Linked DNA regions of Homo sapiens: regions 2, 3 and 4 are each linked to region 1. Evidence: fine-mapped expression QTL. A gene starts in region 1. Each other region holds a variant in brackets. All regions are shown on one strand. Distances are from middle to middle.

Evidence for each region. PIP is the estimated chance that this variant, and not a neighbour inherited with it, causes the effect.
Region 2: its variant is the best candidate, but not a certain one, in a credible set for the expression of SNX18 in thyroid (GTEx, PIP 0.65).
Region 3: its variant is the best candidate, but not a certain one, in a credible set for the expression of SNX18 in whole blood (INTERVAL, PIP 0.60).
Region 4: its variant is the best candidate, but not a certain one, in a credible set for the expression of SNX18 in whole blood (TOPMed, PIP 0.72).

Annotation. Positions count from the first base shown.
Region 1 is chr5:54,514,716-54,519,866 of GRCh38, forward strand. SNX18 (sorting nexin 18) reads left to right here and starts at 3,044. Exons shown (of 2, transcript NM_001102575.2): 1 at 3,044-4,858. The coding sequence starts at 3,238. RefSeq lists silencers at 2,798-3,039, 2,920-3,479 and an enhancer at 3,952-4,896.
Region 2 is chr5:54,587,332-54,592,482 of GRCh38, forward strand. It overlaps a transcript of SNX18 not described here. Among named protein-coding and RNA genes, the nearest start is that of SNX18, 72 kb to the left of the region's middle. The variant T/C (reference allele first, on the strand shown) is at 2,101.
Region 3 is chr5:54,604,757-54,609,907 of GRCh38, forward strand. It overlaps a transcript of SNX18 not described here. Among named protein-coding and RNA genes, the nearest start is that of SNX18, 90 kb to the left of the region's middle. The variant T/G (reference allele first, on the strand shown) is at 2,095.
Region 4 is chr5:54,613,066-54,618,216 of GRCh38, forward strand. It overlaps a transcript of SNX18 not described here. Among named protein-coding and RNA genes, the nearest start is that of SNX18, 98 kb to the left of the region's middle. The variant G/A (reference allele first, on the strand shown) is at 3,210.

The DNA of each region.
Region 1 (5,151 bases):
GTTTTCAAGTAAAATATAGTGTTAATTTTAATAATGACCCACTCTGTAATAGTGAAATTTCTAACAATCTGAAAATTTGCAGTGGTGTTCTGGGTGGTTGTGTTACCTTTAACGTTGTTGATTTAAAGAGGAGTGTTACTTAGCTGCCTTAGAAACAGTTACAGCTGGGTGGCAGAGGGCACCAGGCAAGCTGACCCAGACACAATAAGAGCTACTGGAGAGAGCTGACTTCATCTAGGGAGGATGTAAGTGGACATTCTTTCATTCATCTAACAAATACTAACTGGTTGCCTAACATGTCTGTTTTGTTCATTGCTATATCCTCAGTGCTCAGAAAACCTCATTGCCCTGAAAAGGTTTATGTTGTAATAGGGGAGGCCGTTAATGTATAGACGTGTTTATCTTAGGTCATAGTTGCTACAAAGAAAAGTGAGACTGTGGGATGGACAGGGGATGGGAGGGAGGGAGGGAGATTATATTAGCATAATTAGTACCAGCTGCCTCAGCAATCTCTGAAATTTCAGTGGCTTAGTCGGACAAAGGATTTTTCTCTCACAAAGTATGATTGGGGTCGGTGACTCAGGGACCCAGGCTCCCTCTGTCTTCCGGTATCTCCAAGGAAGGAGAAGAAAGGAGGGATGGAAAGCCCCATGGTTCTGACCGAATGAAGCGATGATGTGGCATGGTGGATCTCCCGGGGAAGAGGGCTCCAGGGAGAGAGAAAAGCGAAGGCAAAAACTTCAGCAAGAAACGTGCTTGACTTGTCCCAAAAATAGCAAAGCAACCACTGTGGCTTCTTTCAGTGGAAAAGGGGGCTGGAAAGATAGCCAAGGGCCAGGCTATCTAAGGCCTCTCAGGCCAAGGGAGGAAGTAAGAAAATGCAATTGTTTGGGGTCATTTAGTGTCCCCTAAAAACTTTACAGAAGCATATGGGTGGTTATAATGATTGTGTAAACTAAACTGTGAATAATATGCTCCATTTTCTAGAGAAATCTTTACAAAATGTGTTACTGTATCTATTTCCCTGAGTGAACAGTTATAGGTTGTTAATACTGGAGCACAATTTTCTACATATCTAAGACCCTCTAGAGGTAGGGGTTTTCCTGCCACTAGTGGCCATAGGGCCAAACATCATGACAGCCTGTCCTCATCCTTCTGGAAGCCTGATGCGCGGCAAGCACAGAGGCCTCCCACTGGACTCCTACAAAGTAAGCACCTGCAGACGCCCATGCCCCAGTGCTACAAACAACCTTGGACACCCAATAATTCCTCAACCACCATTTCTACAGAGTAGCTCAACCAGTCTGTAAAAAATCATCACCTTAAACTCCTGGAATTTTCACACCTGAAATAAGCCCAAAGTTACTGTACTTAACTCTAATCTAAAAAGTAACTACTAAACGAACAGAAGGGGCGAAACTAAATTTATTTATCTTACATATTCTAGGTTAGCTTTTCAGAAGTAAAATGAGTCATATTCTAGAGGTTTAGTTAATGTGGACTTCATGTTTCTGACCACATGAAATGTTGGCATTGAAATTCAATGATCCCTGTTGCTTACTGTGAGAATAGTCAAAACCCAGAATTTTCAGCTAAAAATGTAATTTAGAATATGCTTACTGAATTGAATTAAGGTTTTGCATTAGGATAAACACTGTGGGAGTGATTCTGGTATAGTGGGTTTGTGTTTTTGTGCAAGATGCTTACAATACCACAGCCCTTAGAATAATTGTACACTCTTCTGGCCCGTTTCCCAGGTTTCCTTGAAAAGGGTCAGAGGACAGGCTGAAATTAATGACACATGAATGCAGAACCTCAATTAGAAGTGTCTTCAAAGGAATAATTAGGCTAGACTTAATAAGAGGGGATTAAGAGAAGAAAAAGCTTTGGGCAAATTATACACTGAAGGAAAGGAAGATAGGAAACAAGGCAACGATAGATTGGAGCTGATTATTTCAGGAAGTGATTTTTGTTCTATTTATCTTAAAAATAATATAAATATAGTGAGACATAGAGACAACAGATGGATGGATGGTCACTGACCTCTTACTAGGAGTGGCAATGTGAACATTGGGACGCTTCCTGGTGCATGTACCCTGCAATTGTTAGTTTAGTACCCCTATTCCCTTTGTGAAAGAGGCCAGGGATTTTGCTTCCCCCAAATAACAGTAACAGCAGCAAAAGCAGCAACAAACCCTTCAAATCTGCTTACCCTGCCAGATATTGTTTCACTTTCCTCATCTGTAAAATAGGGATTACTTTATGATGGAATCCCCACAACAACCCCCGGAGGTAGGTACGATATAAGTGCCTTGTTCCAGGTCATACAGCTAGGTAGTGTCAGAACACAGATTGAAATTCAGAAGCCTGGCTCCGAAGTTTGAGCTCTCATTCACCGCACTACATATATCTATGGGAGGATAGGCGACACATGCATGTAATAAATGTGTGAGCATTTATTGTACTGGAAACTCTCCAGCTCCTCCCTCTCTACATGATCCTTTGCTTCTAATTTTGTCAATCACAGCACCTTCCCTGGCCCTTACTTTGTTCTTGCCAATCTCCTCTCCTTGAGCAGAAGAGGGAAGGGAGCCTGCTCTGTAGGTGAACAGCTCCTCCGCAGAGGCATCCTGTTTTCTTAGTGCAATCACTAATTCGCATTGCAAAATGCTTTATTACATGACTGGGTTGCCATTCTAGGAGCATTCACTGAGCGCTCAGAGTGGGAACGTTTATCAGGCATGCAAATGCTAACTTACTTTCTAGAGAATGTTTAACTTAAAAGCCTAAAGAAATCTCAGATAATTCACTTCGGAGTAGAAACCTCCTTCAGCCGCGCTCACTACGGCGCCCGGCTTCGCGGCACCGGCCACTAGAGGGCAGTGGCCGCCGCAAAGCCGACGCGGGCGGTGGGCTCGGCGGCTCGGCCATCGCTTGCTCTCGCCTGGCAAGGGGCTCTCGGCCGTGGATTAGCGCAGCTGGAGACGTGGGAGGCCGCGGGCCCCGCCCCCGACCGGCGGCGGCTGCGGCGGCCCAGCGCGGCAGTCGGCGCTGCGAAGTGGAGGCGCTGCGAGCGGAGCCGCGCGGAGGGCGCGACCGGCTGGTCCGGGCAGCGTGGGTTTGCCGCCTTCGGGGCTCCAGTCCGCGCGCCAGGGCTCGAGCAGTACCGCGGGCCCCTCAGGTGGGCCTCGGCTCGGGACGCCGGGAGTCGGGACCGCCAGTCGGGGCGCCGGGACCATGGCGCTGCGCGCCCGGGCGCTGTACGACTTCAGGTCGGAGAACCCAGGAGAGATCTCGCTGCGAGAGCACGAGGTGCTGAGCCTGTGCAGCGAGCAGGACATCGAGGGCTGGCTCGAGGGGGTCAACAGCCGCGGCGACCGCGGCCTCTTCCCGGCCTCCTATGTGCAGGTGATCCGCGCCCCCGAGCCTGGCCCGGCGGGAGACGGCGGCCCGGGCGCCCCGGCCCGCTACGCCAATGTGCCCCCCGGGGGCTTCGAGCCCCTGCCTGTCGCGCCCCCCGCCTCCTTCAAGCCGCCGCCTGACGCCTTCCAGGCGCTGCTGCAGCCACAGCAGGCGCCGCCTCCGAGCACCTTCCAGCCGCCCGGCGCGGGCTTCCCGTACGGCGGGGGCGCCCTGCAGCCGTCGCCTCAGCAGCTCTACGGCGGCTACCAGGCCAGCCAAGGCAGCGATGATGACTGGGACGACGAGTGGGACGACAGCTCCACGGTGGCGGACGAGCCGGGCGCTCTGGGCAGCGGAGCATACCCGGACCTCGACGGCTCGTCTTCGGCGGGTGTGGGCGCAGCCGGCCGCTACCGCCTGTCCACGCGCTCCGACCTGTCCCTGGGTTCCCGCGGCGGCTCGGTCCCCCCGCAGCACCACCCGTCGGGGCCCAAGAGCTCGGCCACCGTGAGCCGCAACCTCAATCGCTTCTCCACCTTCGTCAAGTCCGGCGGGGAGGCCTTCGTGCTGGGGGAGGCGTCAGGCTTCGTGAAGGACGGGGACAAGCTGTGCGTGGTGCTGGGGCCCTATGGCCCCGAGTGGCAGGAGAACCCCTACCCGTTCCAGTGCACCATCGACGACCCCACCAAGCAGACCAAGTTCAAGGGCATGAAGAGCTACATCTCCTACAAGCTGGTGCCCACGCACACGCAGGTGCCGGTGCATCGGCGCTACAAGCACTTCGACTGGCTGTACGCGCGCCTGGCGGAGAAGTTCCCGGTCATCTCCGTGCCCCACCTGCCCGAGAAGCAGGCCACCGGCCGCTTCGAGGAGGACTTCATCTCTAAGCGCAGGAAGGGCCTGATCTGGTGGATGAACCACATGGCCAGCCACCCAGTGCTGGCGCAGTGCGACGTCTTCCAGCACTTCCTGACGTGCCCCAGCAGCACCGACGAGAAAGCCTGGAAGCAGGGCAAGAGGAAGGCCGAGAAGGACGAGATGGTGGGCGCCAACTTCTTCCTGACCCTTAGCACGCCCCCCGCCGCTGCCCTTGACCTGCAGGAGGTGGAGAGCAAGATCGACGGCTTCAAGTGCTTCACCAAGAAGATGGACGACAGCGCGCTGCAGCTCAACCACACGGCCAACGAGTTCGCGCGCAAGCAGGTGACCGGCTTCAAAAAGGAGTATCAGAAGGTGGGCCAGTCCTTCCGCGGCCTCAGCCAGGCCTTTGAGCTGGACCAGCAGGCCTTCTCGGTGGGCCTGAACCAGGCTATCGCCTTCACCGGAGATGCCTATGACGCCATTGGCGAGCTCTTCGCGGAGCAGCCCAGGCAGGACCTGGATCCCGTCATGGACCTATTAGCGCTGTATCAGGGGCATCTGGCTAACTTCCCGGACATCATCCACGTTCAGAAAGGTAAAGCCTGGCCCTTAGAGCAGGTGATATGGAGTGTATTGTGCAGGCTGAAAGGGGCGACTTTGACAGCAGTACCACTGTGGGTTTCAGAATCATATTCTACAGGTGAGGAAGCGAGCAGAGACGTGGACGCCTGGGTCTTTTCCCTAGAGTGTAAGTTGGATTGCTCGACAGGCAGCTTCCTCCTCGAGTATCTTGCATTAGGGAATGAGTACTCTTTCTCGAAGGTTCAAAGAGTACCTTTGATGACAGTGCTATCATTTTAGAGTTTGAATAGTTGAGTAATGAGCTGC
Region 2 (5,151 bases), 73 kb after region 1:
GGTTATTTATATCCTATTAAGTACTATATACATCAACAGTATATAAATAATAGTCCCTGGCCAAGGCAAAGACATAATCTATTGCGTCTTCTGCTGGAAAAGAGAATTGCTCTTACCAGAATAAAGGACTGTGCTCCAAAGGTGAATTAATGTTTTCATCTCTATAGACTAAAAACTTGTCAATAACTTCCAAAAGCAAAAAACTCCTTAATGTCCTTTCTCTCCGTGGTGCCCAATTACTTGCACCTGCACACGGCATGCACTCATTGTTGGTGCTGCCAGTGTTCCAATCCCTTCTACTGAACCCTGCAATGCTCTCAGAGCCTGCTGCTCTTCTTTAGTTCACTTGGCAGTTAATATGATGTTGAAAACACCACCATTCATTAAGAGTGGAGGGGTACAGCACCATTGCTTTCAATTCAGATGGTCTGTGGTAGAGACTACAAGTGGTCACCTATTTCCATTCTTTCACTTTTGTGCACAGCACCAAAATCCCCAATATTTTTTAAGGCACGTGGCCATCAAGGATACAGTGTGACTGTCTGTGCTTCCCTTGCAGTTAGATGTGGGCATAAGATGACATCCTGGACAATGGATTGTGAACGAATGTGATGAGGCCATCTGCCAGGTTGTGTCCATGAGAGGAAGGTGTACACCCCTTTTGCCCTTTCTCCTTTCATAGAAGGAGGACAAGTTGCGGAAGAAGCCAATCTTCTAGGGAATCCAAGCAACCCAATCAAGGAAATCTGGATTTCTGACACCAGTACTCAGTGGCAGAAGTTCCCAAACACTCTCGTTTCATAGTATAGTGTCGCCATAATTTTTTCATATTGACTCTAGGCCAAAAGAATGCCTAAAAATTCTGTTTCTAGGCAGTTGTATCTAAGCAATTTGCTATGTCCTAACAACTTAGAAGTCATTTGAAAAAAAAATAATTCAAATACATTGAAAGAAAAAATACTGTTATTTCTATTCTTTTTTTTTTTTTTTTTTTTTTTTTTTTTTTTTTTTTTTGAGACGGAGTCTCTCACTTTCACCCAGGCTGGAGTGCAGTGGCGTGATCTCAGCTCACTGCAAGCTCTGCCTCCCAGGTTCACACCATTCTCCTGCCTCAGCCTCCCGAGCAGCTGGGACCACAGGCACCCACCACCACGCCTAACTAATTTTTTGTATTTTTAGTAGAGATGGGGTTTCACCATGTTAGCCAGGATGGTCTCGATCTCCTGACCTCATGATCCACCCACCTCAGCCTCCCAAAGTGCTGGGATTACAGGCGTGAGCCACCGCACCCAGCTCTTATTTCTGTTCTTAAATAACCACAATCACTTACTAGTGGGATGCGTGCACCTGTTGAGCACTGTACACCTTCTCAAACCTTGGGATCACATTGGGTAACAGTACTGTCATTTACTTGCATTTTATCAGACCAGCCACTGAAAACCCAGCTTTGCAAAGGTATGATATCATCAAAGAGAATGTAACAAGATCTGAGGTTTGAACTCTGAACTACCTCAAGCTAGTAATATGACAAATGTCAAGGTATCACTGAATTTTCTTTGAATAAGAAAAATTTACCATGGTATCCTGTGGTGCCTGGGTGCATAGTTTGGGAACCATGTCTGTGGAGCAACTATACTAGCTCTGGACTGTTTATATAAGAGAAAAATAAACTTCTATTGTCTTTAAACCACTATGATTTCAGAGCTTTAAGAGCACACTAATCTTATCTTATAGAAGGTTGAAACTATTAAGACAAAAGTGAAAATATGACTAGGCAGTTTAACCTGAAAGTTGCACATATACATTGACACCCCCAACCCCCTGCCCTGCGGTCACCTTCTGTTCCCCCAGGCCAGTCCTCTAAGTTGCATCCCTTTTCCTCTCATTTCTTTCCTTCTGCCTAGTAATTTGTTCCATTTCACTAGCTGCCGGCTCTCAGGGCAGCTGCCCTCCATGATCCCTGTGGCCTTTCCCTTCCAGAGACCCCTGTGTCTCTGCCCAAGCTGTGCCTTGTTGAAGGAGCTATATTTGCTTGTGTGGCAAACCCTGAGGCACGAGGGCCAGCTTTTCTCCCCTCACCACACATATGCCTTCTTAACT[T/C]AAGGGAAAAAATTCCATTCCCCTTCAGGGAACATTAAAGAAGTGGGGTAAAAAGCAAAGTTTTGGTTGCACGATAGGTTGAGTCCTCTAAACCACTTAAGAGGTATATTTCAAAATGAAGAAAGAATTTGAAGTACAAAGAATTAGTCAGGTATGAAAATCATTTAACCTTCGGCAAGCACCTAAAGCCAAACTCTATGGGGGTGCCCAACAGGCCGTGAGCTTGGAAGAGAAGTCGTTTCCTTCCCAAAGCTGACCTTTGAAAGTGAAGATGCTGCTCTAATATTACTTCTACTGGCCAGAGGGGGAAATGCCCAGTCAATGGATTCTGCAAAACTAGAGGAAACCAGGGCCCTGTGATATTGATTCTCTTCTAACTCCTACAGAGAAGTTTTCTCTCCACGTCTTTGTTTGAGACAGAGTCTTGCTCTCTCAACTAAGCTGGAATGCAGTGGCGAGATCATTCTCCCACCTCAGCCTCCCGAGTAGCTGGGACTACAGGCACACACAACCATGACCAGCTAATTTTTAAAATTCTTTGTGGAGATGTGCATTTACTATGTTGCTCAGGCTGGTCTCAAACTCCTAGCCTCAAGCCATCCTCCTGTCTGGACCTCCCACAGTGCTGGTATTATAGGCGTGAGCCACTGCACCCAGCCCTCTCCAAGTCTTAAGGCAAACTGTAGCCACTTTCCTCTTGAGGTAAAGTAGACATGGCCTCTTCCAGTTGACTTCTTCCAATATGTTTCAGTAGTTAGAAATTCAAATGAGATAGCAATCCATTCCCTCTGATGCTGGCTAGTAAGGCCAAAAGGAGTATTTCCAATGCTGTCAGATGTGTCAGCTTCTGTGAGGAGTTGAGTCCAGCAGAGGGTGTTTGATTTATGTAGTTCTAGACGGGGGGCATTTCTAGTAACTGAAATAGTTGAGAATCCTACTCTGAATCACTTCCCTAAGCCCCTTTTGTTTTAGTGCCATTCTTTGTTAAAGCCTAAGTCAGATTATTGGTTTCTTTTGAGCAGAAACTGCAACAGATAAGGCCTGTCTCCCTAAGCCAGATCCATGTGATCATTGCTTTTGATCTGACAGCTACTGGCAGGAGTGTAGCTAGTGCAGGTGATGTGGATTTCGCCCTGGTCAGTGACCCCCTACTTATACCTGACTAGCTCTCCCCAACCCCAACCCCAATCTTTGGTCTTTATTCCAAAAATGCAAACCTATTTAGATATCCAACTAAGCAGACATTAAATGGGAAGGAAAATACATTTTTGAAAAAAAGTATGATGACATGTTTCAAACCCAAGCCCTTTTTTCTCAGACAGTCCCCTGCTTCGGCATCCTGTCCACACGGCTAGTGTGTAATCCGTTGCTTGCTTACTGGTCTCCCTTCCTCCCTAGATCCTGAGCTCCATGAGGGCAGGAAGCATGGCATGGTTATCTCCTGCCTGACGCTCGCCACTTGGTGCATGATGAGTAAATGTTCATTTGATATGAATTCTCCCCTCACTGGCATGGCTTAGTGAAAGCTAAAGAAACAGAGTAAAGTAAGTGAAGTTCAGCTCATCCTCCCCATCCCCCCTCACTTCTCCTTTTTTCTTCCTTCCCCTGATGTCCTCATCTCTCTCCCTGTCTCAGAAGCACTGTCAGCTTCCATAAATTACAGGAATAAACACCTAAAGGTACCACTCTTGACCACATTCTGAGATTTGACCCAGACCTTGCTTTTTTGTTTTTTGGGTTTTTTTTTTGTTTTGTTTTGTTTTTTTGAGACACGCTTTTGTTCTGTCAGCCAGGCTAGAGTGCAGTGGTGTGATCATAGTTCATTACAGCCTCAACCTCCTGGGTTCAAGCAATCTTCCCACCTCAGCCCCCAGAGTAGCTGGGACTACAGGCCTGCTGTACATCTCCTGGCTAATTTTTAAATTGTATTATTACTTTTTGTAGCAATGGGGTCTTGCTATATTGCCCAGGCTGGTCTCGAACTCCTTGGCCCAAACAATCCTCCTGCCTTGGCCTCCCAAAGTGCTGGGATTACAGGTGTGAGCCACCATGCTCAGCCTGTCTTGGACCTTTGGCTGCAAAGTGCTGAGCACAGAGCCATGCAAGGGAAGGTGGGCAGGAAAGCTTGCACCATTTGTTGGTGGCACTGTGAGCACTCAAAATGATGTCCCCCTTTGACTACTGTGGTAGATGTCACTAATGTTCTCCTTTACCTCCTAGTAGAAAGAGAAATATCTTTTCTGCCCTTTCGAAGTTAGGTGTAACCATGTGACTTGCATTGGCATAAGAATTAAGAGCTTCCACACTTTGCCCCAGTCACAGTTGTCAGAGCAGTGCATACAAATGTGTTTTTAGACAGAGGTGCCACAAGAGCAAAGAATCCTGGATCATTGAGCTGTCACCTGAGGAGAGTCACCCTGACCCCCAATGAGCTTTGCATGTGCAAGAAATAAATATTTGTTGTTTTAAGCCACTACGAGTTTTGGAGATTGTTTGTTGCTAACAAATATCTTGGCCTATCCTGGCTGATATAACTACCTTCTGTACTTTGCTTACTCTGTCCATATTTCAATTGTTTATTAATCATAAGGTGCCCTGTGAAAGCAAAAGTCAGGCTAGTGGCTCTTATGGTCTTTAACAAATGTGATGGCAACATATCACTTTCAAAATTGTTCAAAAGGCTTCACTTGGGAAATGTGCCAGAGGGGAGCTATTGCTTTTCTTCATCTGCCCCTTTACTATACCCTCGCCTCCCACTTCCTTCCCACACATGGTGACCTGGGACACTTCATGTGAGATCTGCCGAATTTGGCCTCCACAACTCCAGAATCAACCTTCCCTTCTTTTCTTCATCTCACCTGAGCTGCCTCCACCTCACGACACTCTTCTCAGATGGGTGTTACAGAGGTGCCAGGAATTCTTCTAGAAGTAACTAACTCCTAGCACTTGTGAAATCAAAGCCCATGGACAACAAATTGCTCTCCATTTGTGGACACATGGCTTCCCTGAATGTGCAAGACAGATCTAATTCTCAATGGTTGCCTGGCACTG
Region 3 (5,151 bases), 90 kb after region 1:
TAAAATGGCAAAATTTGTGATGTATATTTTGCCACAATAAACAGACAAACCAAAAATGACATGCTGGTAAGGTAAGAGGATGACTGGATATTGATTTTAGATTGGATGTCTAGGGATGGCCTTTCTGAGGAGTGTCATCCACGCTGAGATCTGAATGTCAAGAATAAGAAAGAGGTAAGGCACAATCAGAAGGAAAAGCAGTCCCCGAATATGAAACTGTAAGATCAAATACCTGAAGGTAGACACAGGCTGGATATTGGAGGAACAGAAAGGAGACCCTCTGGTCTTCCTCTGGTGGAGGAAGTGTGAGGGGTGGTGAGTGATCAAAATGTAAGATCTAAGATGTAAGCAGGAGACTTTTTCCAGTCAGCATGAGGGCTGACTTCTACTGGACTTTATTCTACCTTAATAGGAACTCTCTGGGGGATTTTAAGCAGTTGAGTAACATGAGAAGGAGGAAATATATCCTGTTTTGGGCAATTTTAGATGGATTCATAGTGGTAACATTTTACCTGGGACTTAAGTCATAGACATTCATGGGGAGGAAAGCTAGCAAAATTGTTCCAGAGTAGTACCAGCAGAGACTCAGAGTTAGGGGTTTAGACTTTTTTTTAAAAAAAGCAATATTTAATTTGAAGATCTTAGAAAATGTAAAGCCACGCTTATCACAGTAGTGTGTTACGTACCAGGAACCACGTGGGCCATAGAGTAATCATCTTCTTGGAGTAAATTTTGCTCAGATTACTGAACTTTTTTACATAATTTTAACTAATTTTTTAGTTGAAAACAATGTTTTTTAAAAAGTTTAATTATATGTTTTATTTAACCCAAGATATCCAGAATAGTATTATTTTAACATAATCAACATAAAAATTATTGAGATTTTTTATGATCAATTTTGAAACTTATTTATTTATTTTTGAGGCAGGGTCTTGCACCGTCACCCAGGCTGGAGTGCAGTGGCACTATCGCAGCTCACTGAAGCCTCGAACTCCTGGGCTCAAGGGATCCTCCTGCCTCAGCCTCTCAAGTAGCTAGGACTACAGGCATGTGCCAACACACCCAGCTAAATCTAAAAACTTTTTTTTGTAGAGACAGGGTATCACTTTGTTGACCAGGCTAATCTTGAACTTCTGGGCTCCAGCAATTCTCCTGCCTCTGCCTCCCAAAGCGTTTGGATTATGGGTGTGAGCTACCACGCCCATCCTAATTTTGACACTTTAAAAAAATGTCACCACTTTTTAACAGTCATTTCTTCCTTTCCTTTGAATTGTGGTAAAATACACACAGTATAAAATTCAATATTGAAAATCATACTTTTATATTGCAATAAATAAAGATGTATTATGCAGTGTAATGTACTATTTGTATAGATTTTCCAGGCGTTTCAGGTTTTGGATGGCTGCCTGTGGCTACACACCAGACATCCATCCATTCATACATCTACTCTCATCTATTGTTAAGGAACATTTCATTAAAAAAGTTTGTGAATGACTGAATTGTAAATGACATCCCTGTATAAATGGTTATCAGATAATTCTTATATGAATCTTCTTTTGCTATTGATTCATCTATCATAAAAATAATCAGTTTTCAAGTTATTAGGCTGCCTCTGAATTTTATCTTGCCTTTCTTTGTATTTCCAGGTTAGTCCCTCTAAACATTTACCCAACTTTTGGTCTTTATGATAATGAAGACATCTGACCTCTGGTTGGCCATTGGATTGTTGAAGAGGACTTCGGGAGACCAGGTGGTTCACTGGGTCAGTTGGCTCAATTCAGAGGCATTCACTCATTCTTGCTCTTCGTCCCACCCCAGAGTGTCCTGTAATCTGAATGAACTCTCCCTCTCTGATCTAAGCATTTTTCGATTTGCAATTTTCATGGAGATAATTCTAGGTTTATATGCAATTTTAAGAAATCAGACGGCTAGATCTCGTGTATTCTTCACCCAGTTTCTCCCAATGTAACATTTTACAAAACATTAGTATAATATCACAACCAGGAGATTGACATTACTACAATCCATCCATCTTTTTCAGATTTTCCCAGCTTTATTTGTACTCACGTGTGTGTATGTGTGAAAATTGCACAG[T/G]TCCATAAAATGTTATCACCTGTATAGGTTTGTGTATCCACCACCACAGTCAAGATACTGACAGTTCCAACATCACAAGGATCCCTTATTTTGCCCATTTACAACCACTCCTACCTTCCTCACCCACCCCATCCCTATACCCTGGCAACCATTAACAAATATGTCCTCCAGTTTTGAAATGTCATTTCAAAAATGTTATATAAATGGATGCATACAGTATGCATTCTTTTGAGAAAGGCCTTTGTGTGGTTCCTGGGTAATAATAATGAGTCTGACTCCATTTTCTGATGTTTGCTAGTAGCTTTTATACCCCACTCTTCTCATTTCCCATTTTGCCCCACATCTGGGCAAGCTGATAAGAAAGCCTGGGTTCTTCTGTTGGCACTGAGATTCCAACCATGTGGGCCCCCGCCTGTGTGCAGGAACCCTCACCCCAGCCCCACTCCCCAACGCCTAAGAAAACTTCAAGTCAGTTTTCTTTCCCTGCTCTCTTACGCTGTTTTTGGACCTGTTTGGGAAGCTTTCCCAGCTGTCTCCAGAAAACCTCATTATGTGCGTAATAAACCTTTTCACACTCTTTCGATGTCTATCTGGTGTCATCATTTGAACCATAGTTTAGGTGGGAATTTATCCTATTTCTACAGAATGGCTACAATAACATAATTCTTGGATATTTATCCAATTTGTTGCCTGTATAGTATTCCATGGTAGGTATGCATCACAATTTGTTTAACCATTCACCTGTTGAAGGACATTTCTGGCCTTTCCACTTTTTAGCTATTACAAATAAAGCTGCTATGGGCCAGGCACTGTGGCTCATGCCTGTAGTCTCAGCACTCTGGGAGGCCGAGGCAGGCGGATCACTTGATGTCGGGAGTTCGCGACCAGCCTGGACAACATAGCAAAGCCCCATCTCCACAAAAAAATACAAAAATTAACCGGGCGTGGTGGTGGATGCCTGTAGGTCCAGTTACTCAGGAGGCTGAGGCAGGAGAATTGCTTGAACCTGGGAGGCAGAGTTTGCAGTGAGCCAAGATCATGCCACTGCACTCCAGCCTGGGTGACCGAGCAAGACTGTCTCAAAACAAACAAACAAACAAACAAACAAAAATAAAGCTGCTGTAAACTTCATGTGCAGGGTTTTATGTGAACATAAGTTTTCCTTTCCCTGTGATTAAATGCCCAGGAGTTCAATTGCTAGGTCATATGGTACTTACATAATTGCTTTTTAAAGAGACTGCCAAACTATTTTCCAGAGTAGTTGTACCATTTTGTGTTCCTATCAGCAATGTTTGAGGGATCCAGTTTCTCTGCATCCTCATCAGCATTTTATATGGTCACTATCTTTTTCTTTAGCCTTTCTGATAGGTGTGTGGTCATATTATGGCTTTAATTTGGCTTTCCCTAACGGCTAATGGTACTGAACATCTTTTCATGTGCTTATTTGCCATCCGTATAGCCTCTTTGGTGAAATGTCTCTTCATGTCTTTTGCCCATTTTCTAATATGAACTGTGCTTTTTATTTTTTATTTTATTGTATTATTTTTAAAGTTTTCTTATTTAAAAATAGAAATGGGATCTCACTATGTTGCCCAAGCTGGTCTTGAACTCCTGGGCTCAAGTAATCCTCCCACCTTGGCCTCCCAAAGTGCTGGAATTACAGGCATAAGGCACCACACCCAGCCGCCATGCTTTTTAAATAATGGATTGTGACCTGTTTGTGTACTGACAAGTACTTACTGGGATATGGAGATAGCCTGAGCTGTTTAAATAGTGTTATGAAATCAGTGTTGAAATAAACAGTTGAAGAAGGAAGGATGACTGGTGTGTCTGTGTGGGGGTGTATATGTGTATGCATAGTTGTGTACGACTGTAGCAGGTATTAATCTTAGTTCCCTATATTCAAGTGTGCATCACTTTATTTTCTTTAAATCATCTGAGTACCCATCCTCCTAGGCTGGTGGGAAATTCACACTCAGCCCTTGGTGTCTCTCCCTGCCCTCCAAAGTGTGTAAAGGTCATTAGGTCTTATTAAACACTCTGGCACAGGGAAGACTGTCACTCTAGTTTACAGCTGTGGGTCCACACTGTTTTCCACTAAAGCACCAGTCCATTGTCCCAACCTGTATATCTCATGCTGGGCAGCTCAGCTGCTAATTCCCCGTTCTTAGTGCATAGGACTCTGTGATGAGGTTGGGAGCATCTAATCTCCCATGTTTCCTCACAGCCTCTGAGGTCTTGACACCTTCTCACAGTCCAGTAGAAATTTCTGCAATGATGGAAATGTTCCATAACTACTCTGTCCAGTATGGTAGCCACTAGACATATGAGGCTATAGAGCACTTAAAATGCAGCTAGTGCCACCGAGGAGCTGAATTTTTAATTATATTTAATTTTAATTAATTTAGAACTTTAAAACCACACATGGATATTAACTATTGAGGTGGGCAGTACAGCCTAGGGGGTACTGCCACATTCTTGGTTATGATTTATCCTTCTCTTTTGGCTTTCTAACACCTGAAGAAAATCTCTCTTCCTTTCTTGTTGTCCCCAAAACACATCTTATCTCTCCTTGGGGACGTCATCCGCAATCTCTATGATGGTATTCATTTTCTATTTATTTACTTATTTATTTATAATATCTTATTTTTAGAGTCAGAGTCTTGCTATGTTGCTCAGGCTGGCCTCCAACTTCTGGCCTCAAGTGATCTCCCACCTCAGCCCCCTAAAGCTTAATTTTCATAAAAAACTGAAAAAGCCTCAAATCCTTCTATTTGTCCCACCCTGCAAAAGGGCTGAGATAAAAAAAATGCCAAGGATTTGGCTACCTCCTTGAAATTGAAAAGAAAGAAGTATAGGGAAGACAAACGTGAGCCAATATGTCAATAAATTGCCATGCCGTGGTGATATAGTTTGGATGTTTGTCCCTGCCCAAATCTCATATTGAAATGTAATCCCCCACATTGGAGGTGGAGCGTGGTGGGAGGTGGAGCGTGGTGGGAGGTGATTGGATCATGGGAGTAGATTTCACATGAATGGTTTAGCATCATCTGCTTG
Region 4 (5,151 bases), 98 kb after region 1:
GTAACAGCCAGAGCCTAGGATGGGAGCGGTGCTCATGCCTTCAAGGGCAGGTGGGTACCAATGTGAGATGTTGGGTATGCCATAATTGGGAAATACTGGGCTGACGGCAACTTGGGTAGCAGCAAAAACTCTGCCTATAGGGATTATCTTAGTTCGTTTTATGCTTCTATAACAGAATTCCTGAAACTACGTAATTTATAAGAACAGAGATTTATTTCTTACAGTTCTAAAGATTGGGACGTTCAAGGTTGAAGGGCTGGCATCTGGCAAGGGCTTCTCGGTGCATCATCCCATGAAGGAAGGCAGAAGGTCAAGAGATCACGCACATGAGAGAAAGAGGGAAGGGGCTGAACTCATGCTTTTATCCGGAAGCCACTCCTGCAATACAGGCCTTAATCCATCCAGGAGGGCTCTGCCTCTTCACCCTCATGACCTACTCATCTCTTAAAGGTCTCACCTCTCAGTGCTGTTGCATTGGGGATGTTTCCAACACAAGAACTTTGGAGGACACATTCAAACCCAAGCAGGAATTTAAATTTGATTCAAAATGCTGGTGGCTATAGTTTGTTGTCCCAGATGAAAGTGTGAACTTCTTGTTTTAATCAATCAGTAAAAGGCTAAGGCCCTCTTTTTTTGTTGTTTGTTTTTTTGAGACGGAGTTTTGCTCTTGTTGCCCAGGCTGGAGTACAATGGTGCGATCTCGGCTCACTGCAACCTCCGCCTCCTGGGTTCAAGTGATTCTCCTGCCTCAGCCTCCCGAGTAGCTGGGATTATAGGCATGTGCCACCATGCCCTAATTTTGTATTTTCAGTAGAGATGGGGTTTCTCCATGTTGGTCAGGTTGGTCTCGAACTCCCGACCTCAGGTGATCTGCCTGCCTCGGCCTCTCAAAAGTGCTGGGATTATAGGCGTGAGCCACTGCACTCTTTTAAGAACCCAAGTTTGGTGTTCTGAGGTGAAGGGCTGCATGAGATAAGAATATGGTTGGGATAATTTTGAGCATGTTCTTCATTAGCAAAAGAAATGTTTCTCCTGAACAAAAGTTGCCAAGGGCATTGAAGTTAAAATGTTTTGATAAAGATAACGGAAAGCAGTCCTGCCAGCCCATTGGCCATCATGGTTCTCAAAGACTTAGGGAGGAGAAAAAACTTTGGAGCTGGAATCTGCAATTCTGTTGTTGGTTCTGGGTCTAGAAATGGAAAACTAGGCCCTGCTGGAAACAAAAAGAGCATCTCCCTGATAAGACCAGCAGGCAGATAAGAGGGGTTTGTGGGGTTTTATTAGGCTCAGAAGCCTCAGAGCTAAACTTCTAGATTTTAAAACAGTTTAGAGTAAGATTTATGGAACAAGATCAGTGATTAGTAATCTGTAATTATAGTGAGATAAAGTACTACTTGTATAATATACATGTTCTTTCTAAGAATTCATAAGCAAGGAAAAATAATGAGAAAGATTTAAGGGCCAGGTGCAGTGGCTCATGACTGTAATCCCACCACTTTGGGAGGCTGAGACAGGTAAATTGCTTGAGCTCAAGAGTTCAAGATCAGCCTGGGCAACATGGCAAAACCCCATCTCTACAAAAAAATAAAGAAATAAAAATTAGCCAGTCGTGGTGGTGTGTGCCTATAGTCCCAGATACTCACTCTGGAGGCTGAGGTGGGAGGATCACTTGAGCTCAGGAGGTGGAAGTTGCAGTGAGCCAAGATCACATCAGTCAAGCCTGGGTGATTAAATCTTTTAAAAATATTTAAAAGACATAGACACTAAAAATAAAATTAGTTGAGTATTCTATTCCAGGTACTGTCTTAAGCACTAACTTAAACTGTCGTACACACTAACTTAAACTTCTTAACAACACCCTAAGAAAAAGGTATAATTATTCACATTTTACAGATGAGGACATTGAGGATCAGAGAGATTAAGAAACTTGTCCAACTCACCCAACCAGTACATGACTCTAGGAAACATACTCCTTCTGCTTTGGTTTTTATGGAAAAAACATTATAGATGGAGGGGATGTTCAGGGCTCTGGAGCTTCAGTTAGAGAGGTCTGGGAGGAAGCCTGACCCTTGTGGGATCCATTTTGGTCTAACAATACGATCATTCATGTTCCAAGCCAAAATTGTAGTAGGTAAAATATTTTTGTCTCTCGACTTCCAGATGTCTACCAGGTAAAGAGAAAATTCTTGAGCATGATCTAGAAGGTTCTGTCTAGTTCCCAGCTACAATTCTAGCCTGTCTCCTCTCTCACATGCCTGTAGTCTACCCACCCTAGACTAGCTTCTCATCCTCTGGGCTTGTGCCCCTACTGCTTCCCTTTGCTGGGTGTACCCCAAGTCTGCCTCATGCATTCCTACTCTCTTTTAAAAATCCAGCTTGGGTCATCTCCTCTGTAAGGATGTTCTACCCTTGCCCCCTCACTTCCCAGTCTGATAGACAGACTTAGTCACTGCTTTCATGCTCTCAAACCCCACTGCCTATTTCTCTTAGCGATATCTTTGCATTGTATCACAATGTGTGTTTCAGTCTGATGCATCTTAAGATTTTTAAATGCTTCTGAAAATACAGTGCCTATCTTGGGTATGCCACCTAGTTTGGGCTTTAACCAAATGTTTCTAGACTCTACAAGAGTGCACAATCCTTCAGTTAATAGGGTAGCTCTGGAGGAAAAAAATGTGCATGATCCTCAGACAAAGCACATGTTATTTGTATCTTCAATAACAGGTGCTTTGCCAATTAGCACAGTTCATGTCAGAATTGTTTCTTACAGGTGAAATTAGTGGCATGTTGATTAACATGATGAAAGTTAGAAATGGGATCTGTTTGGTGAATATAAAGATAAGTAGACTAGTTAAAAGAGCTTAGAGACTCTCCACTCTTGCATGAATAAAATATCCAGCACTCTTAGAATGATGCCTTTACCTGGTCTTGGGCCTAGCCATAAACTGTGGGAGATTCTGGTTGCTCAATGCTGGCTAAACTGGCAGCATTATTCTGCCTCTGGAATCCCAGAAATTGTCTTAGAGAACTTTGCAAGGAAGATTATATGAACCACTTTTTTGCTTGCTCACTAACAAATATTTAGTTAACAAGCGTCTGTGTATGCAGCAGAATTTGGCCAGTGGCTTGCTTTGTTCATGATTGTGTAACATTTGTGGAGAAGAATAGCTAGCAGTTCTGACTTAACAACTCCTAGGTTGCAATCATCC[G/A]CACATGACCTATCTGGCTCGGGTCAGTTTTCAACACCCACTCACTGGAGTGTGTCCATACTGCTTCCCTATTTTCCAGGTGGTTCTTATCTATTTAATAACAACTTACTTCTTCAGGAGAAATAGACTATGCATTATTACATTAACTATTCACTCTGATTGTAAAACCACATCCCAATTTCAAAAGTATTAAAAGATTAAAGAAATGTGCATCTTGGCCAGGCACGGTGGCTCACACCTGTAATCCCATCACTTTGGGTGGCTGAGGCAGGTGGATCACCTGAGGTCAGGAGTTCGAGACTGGCCAATATGGTGAAACCCTGTGTCTACTAAAAATACAAAAAATTAGCCAGGCGAAGTGGCAGGCGCCTGTAATCTCAGCTACTAGGGAGGCTGAGGCACGAGAATCTCTTGAATCCAGGAGGCCGATATGGCAGTAAGCCAAGATCATGCCACTGCACTCCAGCCTGGATGACAGAGCAAGACTCCATCTCAAAAAAGAAAAAAAAAATGTGCATCTTAGAATAAAAGCAAACACAATGTCAGATCTCCCTTCATAACTTGCCTGTGTTTTAACCAGGTGCTCACTGCCTAAACTCAGATGCAAGGTAACTGTGGGGTTTCTTTTCCTGTGCTGGGACAAGCCAATGGGAGATATTTGGGGACAGGGAAGTCTCTCCAGGGCCCCTGCAATCACATCAAGCTGGTTTTTATCTCTGAGTCACAGACTTAACTTTCTTCCCCTAGTTCCTTCGACATGAAGGAGGTCTCTTGATTTTGAGATATAAACACTGAGGCAATGAATGAGAGTAAACAACTTCGTCAAAGGCCCCTTCAAAGAAAGTCAGTGGTAAAGCAAAACACACCAGCAGTGTTCCAACTCTCAGTTAATTCACCAGTGAAGCCGCAAGGCCTCTCCTTTCCATGGGCTCCAGCATAAAGCATTTTGACAGATGAATTCCTGACCTGAACAATTCCTTGCCTTTAAAATTCATAAAAGCATAGCAGAACAGAACAGAACAGAATATTGAGTGCAAATAAACCTGTCCACTAGTAGTTCTTATAGCTCCTGTTTGGTTCCACAGGAAAACAACAAGTGAAAACATGCTTTTTACTACTCTATAGAAAATATTTCCTTAGAAAGCAAGGTAGAAATGGTGTACTTCCCCCTCCCAAGTAAAACTTCTCAAAATTTTCAGTTTTCAGATTCTCCTTGTCTGTCAGTGGCATTACTAAAGATGTCCTGTGTTCAACAGAGAATTGAAATAGACTGTGGGAGGGATGGAGAGAGGCGTGCTAAAGAGACAGAAAATATGGTTTTGACCCTCAAGAAACACAAGTTGTAGATTAGGAGATACACCACAAAGAAGATAATTATAGCACTGAGTGAAGTTCTGGAAAGGATTTGTTCATGTCTCTGTTGATGAATCTCTCTTTTTTCCCCTCTCTCTTTTTCTTTTTTTTAAAATAGAGACAGATGTCTCGCTATGTTGCCCAGCCTGGTCTCCAACTCCTGGCTTCAAGCAATTCCTCCTGCCTCGGCCTCTCCAAGTGCTGGGATTACAGGAATTAGCCACCATGCTCATTCTCCATTGACTAATCTGTTAATAGTCCTATCTTTGGGTAAGGTCAACCATGGAGAAAATGCTGGAAGAGGTAAGGTCTAAATTGGGGGATGCGAGGATTATGATGGAGGAAGGGGAACAGCATTCCAGGGTGACATAGTTTGGTTGTGTCCCCATCCAAATCTCATCTTGAATTGTAGTTTCCATAATCCCCACATGTCATGGGAGGGACCCAGTAGGAGGTAATTGAATCACAGGGGCCATTACCCACATGCTGCTGTTCTCATGATAGTGAGTTCTCATGAGATCTGATGGTTTTGCAAGGCTTTTCCCCCTTTGCTTGGCACTTCTCTCGCCTGCCGCCATGTGAAGAAGGA